2 separate regions of the Homo sapiens genome follow, and region 2 is linked to region 1. The links come from fine-mapping of genetic effects on gene expression. Tissue or cell type: whole blood. Region 1 holds a variant in brackets; the other region holds the start of a gene. All regions are shown on one strand. Distances are between the middles of the regions.

Region 1 (6,367 bases):
CCATATTGCCTGTCATCTGGTAGTTAGTTCGGTCTGGTAGCTTGATCAAGTTCAGTTTTCTTTTTTTAAAAATTTTTTTGAGGTGGAGTTTTGCTCTTGTTGCCTAGGCTGGAGTGCAATGGCGCAATCTCGGCTCACTGCAACCTCCGCCTCCAGGAGTAGCCTCCCGAGTAGCTGGAATTACAGGCATGCGCCACCATGCCCAGCTAATTTTGTATTTTAGTAGAGACGGGGTTTCACCATGTTGACCAGGCTGGCCTTGAACTCTTGACCTCAGGTGATTCGCCTGCCTCGGCCTCCCAAAGTGCTGGGATTACAGGTGTGAGCCACCGTGCTTGGCCTCAAGTTCAGTTTTCTTGAAGAGAGTATTTCATAGGTGGTGTGTGTGTTTCCTTATATCGCCTGAGGCACATACTACCTGGTTGCCCATTTTTAGTGATTCTGGGATTGATCAGTAGATTTGAGGATTATCTGCCTTATCCCTCCATTGATGAAGTTCCCAATTAGCCTTTCATGTAATGGCCTTAGCAGTTATTGATGAGTGTTACCAGATCCATTATTTCATTATGGGTTACAGAATGCTGATTATTTAAACTTCTATCCTTTTGCATTTTTAATTAGAACCCTAGAAAGAAAAATCTTCCTTTGTCAATTATTTGCTTACCACAAAATATCATTTATGTAGGAAAGACAGGATAAATGCTTGATTTTTTTTTTCTCTCTCTCTGTTAGTTTTCAGAGTAATGAGCTGTTGCCATACTGGCTCATTTTTTAGTATTATGAAATCCTGAGTTTTCATATGCTTGATGTGTTTCAAATACTGTCATTATTCTTACTCTGTGTAAGGCTGGCAGAAGCCCCTGCAGGTTGGCTTCTGAGTCTTTCTGATGTGGCGTATTTGTCTGGTAGTATCCTTGCTTTCTAGTGCAGGATGTCCCAGGCTCAGCTCAGGTACCTCTTCCCCAGTCCTGACATTAGCCATTTTCCCAAGGAGCCTTAGTTCCTTTTAGTAGAAAACGGTGGTCCTACATTCTTGAACACTTGAAGTCAAGCTTGCTTCTCCCCTTCCCTAGTCTCTTTCCTTTAAGGGTAAAAGCAGCATTAGCTTCCCATCCTACTCAAGAAATCTGTGTCTGGGAAGTTTCTGACGTATACCGTACTATAGTATAGAGATCTCTGAAATCCCATGAGCAGTGTTCTTGGGGAGGGAACAGGCAAGCAAGAATGGCCGGACTCTGTGCTGACTCATCTGCTTTGAGGCTAAAGTGAGCCTTTGGGAGCTAGAGTAAGAGAGGCCCCTGAGTCCCCAGCAGACAGGGAGGTTAGTCAGGCCCTGCTCCCTGTGCACTCACTCTTGGTCTAATTTCTTACCAGTGGATGATTCTGTTTGAGCCTTTCTCTCTAAGAGTCTCTCTCTAGAAACCTACCCCTTTCTGGTAGATATGATCTCTGTCCCACTTACTTTCTCTCTTGGGTGGCCTGAGGGTAAGGTGATATATAGTCTTTGAAATTGATTATATTATGTTTCTAATCCTTTCATTTGTAGGTATCTAGGAAAAAAGCTAAGGGAAATAAGACGGAAACCCGCTTCAACCAGCTGGTCGAACAATATAAGCAGAAATTATTGGGACCTTCTAAAGGAGCACCTCTTGCAAAGAGGAGCAAATGGTTTGATAGTTGATGATGGCAGCAGGCTGGGTAAGAAGCTGGGTTGTGTACTTTCTGGTGACACTCCTGGGCTCCTCCCCATCCCCCGTGTCTCTCACTGAGGGAAAGAAAATCCCCAAGGGCACTGCCACTGTGCTCGGAGGTGCCCTGGACTGTGTACATCTGAACTTTGGTCCATCCTTTGATGTGTGGTTCGTTAGCCACAAAGAGAAATATCTGAAAGTCAACATGATGCTTCTTGCATATTATCCAGATTATTGTATGAAGTTGTGTCTATAATTATTACCAATTTTTATTCTTTATTTCTCAAATGGAAACACCTGAAAAAGCATTCTGGAGTGCTGAATTTTTAAGATGTATATTTTGTTAAGCATATTCTCTAAATGAGATATTGTGTGGCTTTTTAGTAACAACGTCATTTCTAATATGTGTGACTCCTTTATTATGTATGAACATTCTTTGACATTCCTAATTCAGCTCTGTAGTCTTACACACTGCAGGAACTGTCTAAGCGAGAGCAGAGAGAAATGCTTTCTAACCTAATCGCTGCAGGCGGAGACACTTGGAAAAGAATGGGGGGAGGTGGGGCCTGACAGAGAGCAGCACTTATGTGTTTGTCAGATGAGGGGATTTCCAGTTGAATTGGCCTGCAGTGGCCTAAAGACACTAGCCTGGTTAGCGATGACCTGCATTTCTCTCATAGAGCACCTCCCTTTTCATCGTATCCACTAGCTCTCTAAGTCCTCCTTAATGAGGACACTTGATCCTCATTAAGTCTGCCCCTTAAGATGGCTTCACACCTACTGAAAAACTCCAGGGGTTTGACATCTCACTTTGATTGAAATCTTGTCTTCCTATAACATTTGATTCCCTGGGCTCTTCAGCCCTATCACCTCTGCTTGTCTTTATCCACTCTCTTCTTCATTCACTTTTGGCTACACAGGCCTTCCTTCCATCTCTTGACTCTTGACCACCTCAGAGCCTTTGTATCCGTTCCCTTTGCCTGGAGAGTTTTTCCCTTGCATCTTTTACTTGTCACTCAGATCTCCACTAGTTGTCGCCTCCTCCTGGAGCTCTTCCCAGACTATCTAAAGTAGGGCTTTTCTTCCCCTCCCCTCTATCTTGCCCCCTTACTGAAATCTGCTTCCCTGTTTCTTCTTCTTTTTTTTTTTTTTTTGAGATGGAGTCTCACTCTGTCGCCCAGGCTGGAGTGCAATGGCGCTGTCTCAGCTCATTGCAACCTCCACCTCCCGGGTTCAAGCGACTTTCCCGCCTCACCCTCCCA[A/G]GTAGCTGGGACTACAGGTGCACGCCACCATTCTTGGCTAAATTTTGTATTTTTAGTAGAGATGGGGTTTCACCATGTTGACTAGGCTGGTCTTGAACTCCTGACCTCAGGTGATCCGCCCACCTCGACCTCCCAAAGTCCTGGTATTACAGGCGTGAGCCACCACGCCTGGCCTGCTTCCCTGTTTCTTTCTAGCACTAATCTCTATCTGAAATCATTTGTCTCTTTCTAGCACTAATCTCTATCTGAAATTGTTTGTCTCTCCAGTTAGAATGTATGCTTTGTGAGAGGGACTTTATCCCTCTTGTTCACTCCTGTAGACACAGCACCTAGTACTGACCCAGGCACGTAGTAAGTATTGAATAAATATTTGTTGAATGAAAAAAATAAGGTAGGAAAGGAAGAAACAGTATTCAGTAGGCAAGAGAAAAAGTTGAGAACGTGGCCCAAAATTCTTGATTGCTTAGTCTAGTTGAGTGTTACAAATAATGCTTTGACAGAACCATTGCTGAGCTAGAGATATGGTTATTTCTTTTTTTTTTTTTTTTTTGAGACAGTCTTGCTCTGTTGCCCAGGCTGGAGTGCAATGGCATGATCTTGGCTCACTGCAACCTCCGCCTCCTGGGTTCAAGCGATTCTCCTGCCTCAGCCTCCCGAGTAGCGGGGATTACAGGTGCTGCCACCACGCCCGGCTAATTTTTGTATTTTTAGTAGAGACGGGTTTTCACCATGTTGGCCAGGCTGATCTCAAACTCCTGACCTTGTGATCTGCCCACCTCAGCCTCCTGAAGTGCTGGGATTACAGGCATGAGCCTGGTTGAGACATGGTTATTTCATCGCAATATCTTGGGGAACCCATGAATGCTCTGAAATGCCTTTGGTTTAGAAATGGATGAAGGAGAGGCCATGGAAATATTTAGACCTTTTGGAGAGATCGAAAGGACAGGTGATTTATCTCCAAGTTCACCTCGAGACATGACTTGGGCTGTCAAATGTTCTTACGGTAGCCTGGCAACATGTCTTTCTCAGCCTGGTCTGTACAGTGTGGAGGAAGTAAGGGACTTTATTAAGAGTGTCACAATAGCTATAACCTGCCAGTCAGGTGATCTGTTTTTCCTTGGCCATCTCTCCGTCTGCTCACCACTCTTTTTTCCCTAGTACACGAATATCTTTAACATTCAAAAATATATCTTAACACTTAGGATAGATCAAAATTGGTGTTCATTCAGATAACATTGTCAGATTCTCTTAGATCCAAATATTTCTTTTAACAACTTAACAGTATGTTAAAACCTCATTCACTTGCTTGGAGAGCTGTTGTACAGTTCTTTAAAGAGTTCTTTATATGAGGTTGAATCTTCCCTTTCTTAATAGTCAAATTCTATATATGGTGTCTTCCTTTGGAACACCTTACCATGGGCTATTTGGTCAGCTCCATTGACTCCTTGCCTTGGGAATTTTAGTGCAGTGAGAGTTGTGCTCACTTCTCCTTCACTTCAGGGCCTGATGTGTCAGGAAATGGAGTTTTCTGAATTAACATGAAAGTTGAGTTGCAGATTGCTTGGTTAAAAAACAACAGGTGGGGCACAGAGTCTCATACCTATGATTGCAGCACTTCGGGAGGTGGGAGGATTGCTTGAGGTCAGGAGTTTGAGACCGACCTGGCCAACATAGTGAGACCCCCATCTCTATTATTTTGAAAAACAACAGCAAATTTTTTCTTAACATCCAAGACAAGGCCACCAGTCAAAACTATCAAGTTTTAGTAGTATTTTCCTGCTTGATTATATAATAGCCTGGCTTAGAGATACAACCTTTAAATAAGGAATCTTAAGATGATGTGCAGCTGTTCTTTGCCTTATTTGTTTGTTTGTTGGTTAGTTTGTAGTTTCTAAGAATCTGCTCTGTTCAGCTGTACAGTTCCTTCTTCTGGAGTTAACCTGTGGCAAGGATTATGTTTCACCTGTCACAAAAATGAGATCTGTGCCTTCCTCTATTATAAAGTTAGGGCATGTGATTCATTCTTCGAAATACTTCAAAATGTACTTTGGTATGTTTTTGTCTTGAAAAGAGGTTTTCTAGCTAGAAATTCGGGGCCCAGAAGGTCAAGGCTCCAGAGATCCCCTTCTCATCATCCTTCAGTTGTCTGAGGAGACAGAGGATCACATGTGTCACAGTGAGTGCTGATTCCCCAGAATCTGCAGTCTTAAGCTCCCCTGCTGACGCACACAGCCAGTTCTCTGCTTCATATTCATGTGACCCACTGTGAAGTGACAGGCAGCTGCCAATTCTGTCATATAAGAAGCAGCTCTGCCCATGCAACTTTGAAAGTTCCTGCACTTCTCCATAGACTGCTCCTTCATGGAAATAAACACATCATCACACTGTGGGTGCCTAAGCTAAGTTTGTTTGCAGTTTGATGATGCCCAGCTCCTTTTCAACTCAGCCTTAATTGGCACTTTAAGGGCCAGGATGAGGTTTCTCTCAGGCCAAGTCGAGATTTCCAGATTTCCTTTTGTCCAAGGCTGACCAGTTTAGAAGTTATTCACATCCTTGTTTTAGTTCTTTCCTTCTTGTCCTGGTACCTCTTCCTTTCCAGGATTATTTGCAGAGTCTGTGATGGCTTACTTGGTGACCAGACATGGGGTGAGCTACTGGTATAGTCTGATTACTTTGGCATCTATTCTGAACTGGTCATTGGCTGTACATGAGTTTTTGTGCTGGTAAAGGAATATACTGGGAAGATTGGAAGGCACAGACTGGGAACTAATTCTGAGAAGAGAACTGCTGAGTTACTGAAAGACCTTTTGGACCACCCCTAAATGGAGCATCTTGATAGATGGCAAATCCAGTGTTTCTTAAACTTGTCCATGCTGCCCAGAGCCCACTGCCTTTTATCAGATGTGAGACTTCACTGCCACAGTGTCATCCCACAGTTTCCTTCCCTGGACATTTGATAAAGGGAAAATCATTTCTTGTCCTTTAAGGCAGGGACTATTATTTTTTCACTTTTCCACATACCCCACAACACCTAACATTGATTTACTCGTAGTAGGAGTTTCATACTGTTGAACTCTCTAAAGGCCATTTGTTCCAGGGCCTAGCTGGGCTTGTGAAGGACAACAGAGTCATTTCCTAAGGACCCCAAAAGACAGCATGAAGGAAAAAATAATAATAAACTGCTGTTCACAGTGCCTTGAGTGTACCACCGTACTTTCTGCTATGCCTTGTCCATTCCAATCTGGACAGTCTCTGTGCCCCTCCTTTCCACTCAAGTGTTATCCAGCACTCAAGTTCTGGCTCAAGGCCCAACATCTCCGTGGGGACCTCAGCCATCCCAGGGCATTGTGACCCCTTCCTCTAAGTCCCCGGCACACTCGCTGATTGGTACCCTCTCATTCGACAAAGCATATG
Region 2 (6,367 bases), 35 kb before region 1:
TCCGCCCGCCTTGGCCTCCCAAAGTGCTGGGATTACAGGCATGAGCCACCACACCGGGCCTACAAGGCATTTTTTTTTTTTTCTGTCTGACTTTCTGGAGGGCCAAAGAATGATAACATCTGCTTATTGTGAGAGGGTTCTGAGAAAGTTAGCCAAACCTTTAGCAGAAAAATACCTAGGGGAAACCTTCAACAGAGAGGGCCCTTCTCCATCACAGTGCTCTTGCTCACTCCTCTCTCAAACAAGGGCAATTTTTCAAGAGTGTTAATGGGAAACCATTAGGCATCCACCTTAAGGTCCTATTTTGGCTCCTTCTGACTTAGTTTTGTTTCCTAATCTTAAAAAATCTTTAAGGGGCTCACATTTTTCTTCAATTATATATATATATATATATATATATATATATATATATATATATATATATAGAGAGAGAGAGAGAGAGAGAGAGAGAGAGAGAGAGAGAGAGAGAGAGAGAGAGACTGCATTGACATGCTTAAATTCCAAAGACCTTAAGTTCTTTAGAGATGGACTAAGTGGCTGGTATCATTGCTTACAAATGTGTTTTGAACTTGATGGAGCTAATGTTGAAAAATAAAGTTTAGGCTGGGTATGGTGGCTCATGCCTGTTATCCCAGCACTTTGGGAGGCCGATGACGGCTGATCACTTGAGGTCAGGAGTTCAAGACCAGCCTGGCCAAGTTGGTGAAACTCTGTCTTTACTGAAAATACAAAAATTAGCCAGGCATGGTGGTGGGTGCCTGTAATCTCATCTACTCAGGAGGCTGAGGCAGGAGAATTGCTTGAACCTAGGAGGTGTAGGTTGCAGTGAACCGAGATCGCACCACTGCATTCCAGCCTGGGTGACAGAGCGAGACTCTGCTCAGAAAAAAAGAAAAATAAACTTGTATTTTATTTTCAGAAGTCTCGAACTCCTGAGTTCCAGTGATCTACCCATCTTGATCTCCCAAAGTGAGTTATATATTTTTTTGAGATGGAGTCTTCCTTTGTTGCCCAGGCTGGAGTGCAGTGGTGCAATCTCGGCTCACTGCAACCTCTGCCTCCTGAGTTCAAGCGATTCTCCTGCCTCAGCCTCCCGAGTAGCTGGGATTACAGGCATGTGCCACCATGCCCGGCTACTTTTTGTATTTTTAGTAGAGACGGGGTTTCACCATGTTGGCCAGGCTGGTCTCGAACCCTTGATCTGGTGATCCACCCACCTCGGCCTCCCAAAGTGCTGGGATCACGGCCGCTCCTGGCCGTGAGTTGTATTTTTAAAAAATAATCGTGAAGTTTTATTTTAAGCATAGATTACTTACTTCGAACTAGAGCTCCATAAATGTGATGTTTAGCGTCCCCCTAATCTCCACTCCCATCACTATCAACCAGTCGTCTAGCCATCCAAAATGTATTGAAAGTGAATGGGGCTTGAGGAGATCATGAAACTTAATTTTCACCATAGTGCCTTATAAAAGGTACTAAAACTGTAAAGTTTTTGAGTTTTCTATCTGCCATGTTACTATCATTTAAAAGTAATGATTTGGCTGGGCTCAGTGGCTCACGCCTATAATCCCAACACTTTGGGAGGCCGTAGTGGGAGGATTGGTTTATCCCAGGAGTTCAAGACTAGCCTGGGCAACACAGGGAGAACTGTCTGTACAAAAAAATAAATAAATTGGCCAGGCATGGTGGTACACACTTGTGGTCCTAGCTTCTCAGGAGGCTGAGGTGGCAGTATTGCTTGAGCCCAGGAGATCAAGGCTGCAGTGAGCCATGATGGTGCCACTGCACCCCAAGTTGGGTGACAGAGCAAGAGTCTGCTAAAAAAAAAATTATTTAAAAAATGGCCTTGGGTACTTTTTTTTGAGCTAGTTGTTCTGCAAGGTGTAGCTCTCTTGCACCTATTCAGGTCCTGAGCCCAGTGGCATGGCAAACACTCTCTGTGTTCCAGAACCAGGAGCACCCAGATTTCCTAGCCAATTAAGAGCTCTCAGCTTTGGGTCTGTCTGATGAGCTGACTTGAGACAAAGATCTTCTGTTTCTAGGAGGACATGGGTTCTAGGTCTCTGTGTATAAGTTGGATGTTATGTTTGCTTTGAGTGTGTTTGATGTGGTCCTGCAGTGTGTGTGCTGTGATTTATTTGTAAGAATTTTTGGACTAATAGTCTTCCCAGCCAGGTGTGGTGGTTCACACCTATAATCCTAGCACTTTAGGAGGCTAAGGGGGGCTAATTGAGCTCAGGAGTTTGAGACCAGCCTGGGCAACATGGTGAAACCCTGTCTCTGCAAAAAATACAAAAATTAGCCGGGTGTGGTGGTGCACCTGTAGTTCCAGCTACTCAGGAGGCTGAGGCAGGAGGACTGCTTGAACCTGGGAGGTCGAGGCTGCAGTAAGCCGAGATCGTGCCAGTGCACTCCGGCCTGGTTGATAAAGTGAGGCCCTGTCAAAAAAAAAAATCTGTTTCCACCATTAGACTGTAATCTCTATGAGGGCAGGGACCCTGTCATTTCTTTGCTCACCAGTTTTATCCCTAATGCTTGGCTCATAGTTAGAGCTCAGTATATATTTATTGAAATAATAATTGTGTACTATCTGTGTCTATGTGTATTTTAGTAGCTACAATTTGTTTGTGAGGCTGAGGTGACAGACAGCTGGTGTTCTCCGAAAATGAGAATCGTCCGAATGATGTATATGATATATCTATGTCTACGTGTTAGTGTTCCGGTTGTGTTTTATGCACGTAATCTGGGAATTTGTGGAGGCACTTCAGAAAATATCAAACACCCACAGTATATCAGATCCTGAGTTACGCCCGGGGCAAAAACGACTTCTTCTGCCTGTCCTGCTAACTTTGGGGAGGATCTGGAGGTGAGATTTTTAAACAGGGTAGAAATTATTTATTTTTATTTTGTATATTAAGAAAAAAAATTACTTTTTGGAGGCCTTCCGGCAAAAACCAGAAAGCCTGCTAGGCAAATTCTAAAAAAGCTGTAACACTAGGGTAGAAATTATTGATGCCAAGTTTACACAAAAGTGGCGAGGGCGATGCTAGGGCAGGGGGCGGAGCCCCGCTCCAGAAGCTACGCCCCGGGGCGCCATTATTTTTTCATTCCGGAACCTTTTATCCCCCTCCCGACCATGTTTTCCTCCGGTCTCTTTTGGGCAACGAGCACTTCCGGAATCTCTCGGCGTGTGAGCTTGGTTGTCCTACCAAAGCCAGCGTTTCGGCTCGCGTGCGCCGGCCTAGTTTGCTCGCGTCCTCACGCGCTTTGGGTTTCCCGGTCTCATGGCCGGCCTGACCTTATTTGTGGGCCGCCTCCCGCCCTCGGCCCGCAGTGAGCAGCTGGAGGAACTGTTCAGTCAGGTGGGGCCGGTGAAGCAGTGCTTCGTGGTGACTGAAAAAGGTAGGGGCGGGGCGGTCGAGGATAGGGCTGGGGTTTCCTGCGATCGAGGGCACCTTCCCAAACTTCAGGGAGCCGTATCATTCTTTACCCTCCCCGAAGAGAAGGGACAGGGAACTGAGTTTCTTTTCCAAACTGATTCTGCTTTAGATGCGTTCATAGGAGTCAGTTTATGAAGGGCAAAGCATTCCCTTACGTTTCTATAGCGCTTTCTGTTGATTATGCGCGCTAAAAATGAAAATAGTTAACTAGAGCATCAGTAAGACTTATTGAGAGTCACCTGATTGGCAGGTACAGTGATCAGTTTGATACAGGTTATCTCATTTAATTTTCTCAGCAATCTTACCGGATGGAGAGTCTTAATGTCATTTTACAGACAGGAATCCGGGATTTAGGGGAATTTAGTAACTTTAAGTTTGTACGGCTGTTAAGTAGTGGACCCCCGATTTGATCCTCAGACCTGGACATCTTAGCCAGGATGCTATCCACTTGTTCATTCATTTATTCAGCAAATACTTAATACCTACTGTGTGCCAGGAAGTGTTGTAGGTCCTGGGGATGCAGCAGTGCACAACACCAAACCAAAAAAATCTTTGATTTTATGTCTTCAAGGTGGGGAAGAGAGCCAATAAACGAGCCAATAAACAAGCCAACCGTGAAAATGATGTCAAATGCTAAGGAGAAAAATAAGCCAGGGAAAGGGGTTAGGAAGTCTATGTGCATGTGTATAGTGGGGAGAGGGGGTGAAGAGTGGCAATATAGATAGGGTGGCCAGAGAAGGACGGACTGAGGTGAGAGAGTGAACACATGCCTCTCCGGAGGAAGAACAATTCAGGAAGAGAAAACAGCAAGCTCAAAGGTACTGAAACAGAGGTGTTTTTGGTATATTGGAGGAGTAGTAAGGAGGACAGGGTGACTGGATTGAAGTGAGTAAAGGGAAGAGAATTAGGAGATGAGATCTAGAGTAGCAGATCATGTAAGATTTTTTTTTTTTTTTAAAGACTGCGTCTTGCTCTGTCGCCCAGGCGGGAGTGCAGTGCCACGATCTCCGCTCACTGCAACCTCTGCCTCCTGGTTCAACCCATTCTCCTGCCTCAGCCTCCCAAGTAGCTGGGATTACAGGCGAGTGTCACTACACCTGGCTAATTTTTGTATTTTTAGTAGAGACGGGGTTTCGCTATGTTGGCCAGGGTTGTCTGGAACTCGAGACCTCAGGTGATCCGCCCGCCTCATGTAGGATGTTATAGACCATTGCAAGGACTTTGGCTTTTACTCAGAGATAGGAAGCCACTGATTTTAAGCAGAGAGCAGTAAGTGTGATCTGGCATTCGTTTTGAAAGATTCTCTCTCTGGCTGGTGTGTTGCCAATAGACTGTTGGAGAATAGGACAAAAGCTTATGTACTTAAAATAGGGACCGAAAGTCCTGTACAGTAATGTTTATTAAACTGCAGATTATTACCTATTAGTGGGTCTTGAGTGGGTCATGACTAGAGTTTGTTTTGTTGTGTTTTAGAAACAGGGTCTTGCTCTGTCAACCCTGTTGACAGTTGGAGTGCAGTGGTGCGATCACAGCTCAATGTAACCTTAAACTCCTGGGCTCAAGCAATCCTCCTACTTCAGCCTCCCAAGTAGCTATGACTACAGACGTGCTTCACCATGCCTGGCCAATTTTTGAATATTTTTTGTAGAGACAGGGTCTCACTACGTTGTCCAGGCTGGTTTCAAATGATCCTCCTGCCTTGGCCTCCCAAAGCACTGGGATTACAGGCATGTGCCACCACGCCTGGCCTAGAGTTCTTAAAAAATTAAATAGTATAGGAGTACGTCCATATATGGTAAAGGATAAGTATTTGTAAAACTTTTAAGTTTTAAATAAAGAATATATGTATGTACTGGGTTCCAGTGTAAGTAGCATTCCGTACCCAGGTGGTTGTATTCCAGGGAAGAATAGGCCATTGAATGGGAGTTCTCCTTTGAGTCCTCAGAATATAGGCTACATGCAATCTTACCTTACACCTTGTGTACTTGGTCTAAATCCTTAAAAATCTCTTACTTCCTTTTAAAAAACTATGCACTTTCCTATCCAGACAGCTGATATGTACTGGAAAGAGTGCTGCACTCAGTGAAACGGGAGGGAGGGTATGTGGAATGAAGTCTTCCTCAATAGCAGTGCATGTCACTTCACCTCTTTAAGATGGGAATAATTTCACAGGGTTGTCAGGGACTCTAAATGTATGTGAGCATGCTTTATGCAGACATGTAAAATGTGTGGTATTTACTGTATGTCCTTTCATTTGGGTGTCAAACTCTTTTACATTTCAGCTGCTTTACTTTTGGTTGTACTGATCATGAAGGGCTATGAATTTTCTTGTGCTCATTTTCTGAAAGGTGAGTGGGCAGCTTTTATGATAAGGAGTTCAAGAGAAGAGAAAAATTGATGTTATGTTGCTTTAACCAGTTTATGTAGATCAGTGTCCTGTGTCAAAGGGCTTATACCCTGAAGGAGATTCAAATGCAGTGGAAAGAGAAGCAGAGCATATGAACTATGTGTCCTTTTCAGGTAAAGGCAGACTTCTTGATCTGTCCTTTTCCTTTTTGATGCAATAAATTATTTAAAATTTTACTATACAAAATGTTAAACCAAAAAGGGCAAAGGTGGGTTACAGTTGATATTTGTAGTTTTCATCTCCTTGGTCCTAATATTATTCTTTGTGGAGTCCTATGGAAGAACATGGGGGCTGGTGAGGAGGAGTTAATTCAGCTACTAACACCCTGTGTGACATTAACCAATTCACTTACTGTCTTCCATCTCAAATTACTTACTTGGAAAGAAGGGGTGATAATATTTGCTTTACCTATTTTGAGGTGTTCTAAAGATAAAATGAGACAAGAATGCACAGCTGCTTTGGAAAGGTTTAATTTGATATCGACAGCTAAGGCGTTGGTAATAGTGGTCATAACATCTGC

The links. PIP is the estimated chance that this variant, and not a neighbour inherited with it, causes the effect.
Region 2: RBM28 starts here. The variant in region 1 is fine-mapped to the expression of RBM28 in whole blood (TOPMed, PIP above 0.99).

What each region holds. Positions count from the first base shown.
Region 1 is chr7:128,306,111-128,312,477 of GRCh38, reverse strand. It overlaps RBM28 (RNA binding motif protein 28), which reads left to right. Exons shown (of 19, transcript NM_018077.3): 19 at 1,547-6,367. The coding sequence ends at 1,681. It also overlaps the pseudogene LOC100418961. Among named protein-coding and RNA genes, the nearest start is that of RBM28, 35 kb to the left of the region's middle. The variant A/G (reference allele first, on the strand shown) is at 2,954.
Region 2 is chr7:128,340,711-128,347,077 of GRCh38, reverse strand. It overlaps RBM28 (RNA binding motif protein 28), which reads left to right and starts at 3,170. Exons shown (of 19, transcript NM_018077.3): 1 at 3,170-3,402. The coding sequence starts at 3,285. It also overlaps the pseudogene RNU7-27P. RefSeq lists an enhancer at 3,030-3,229.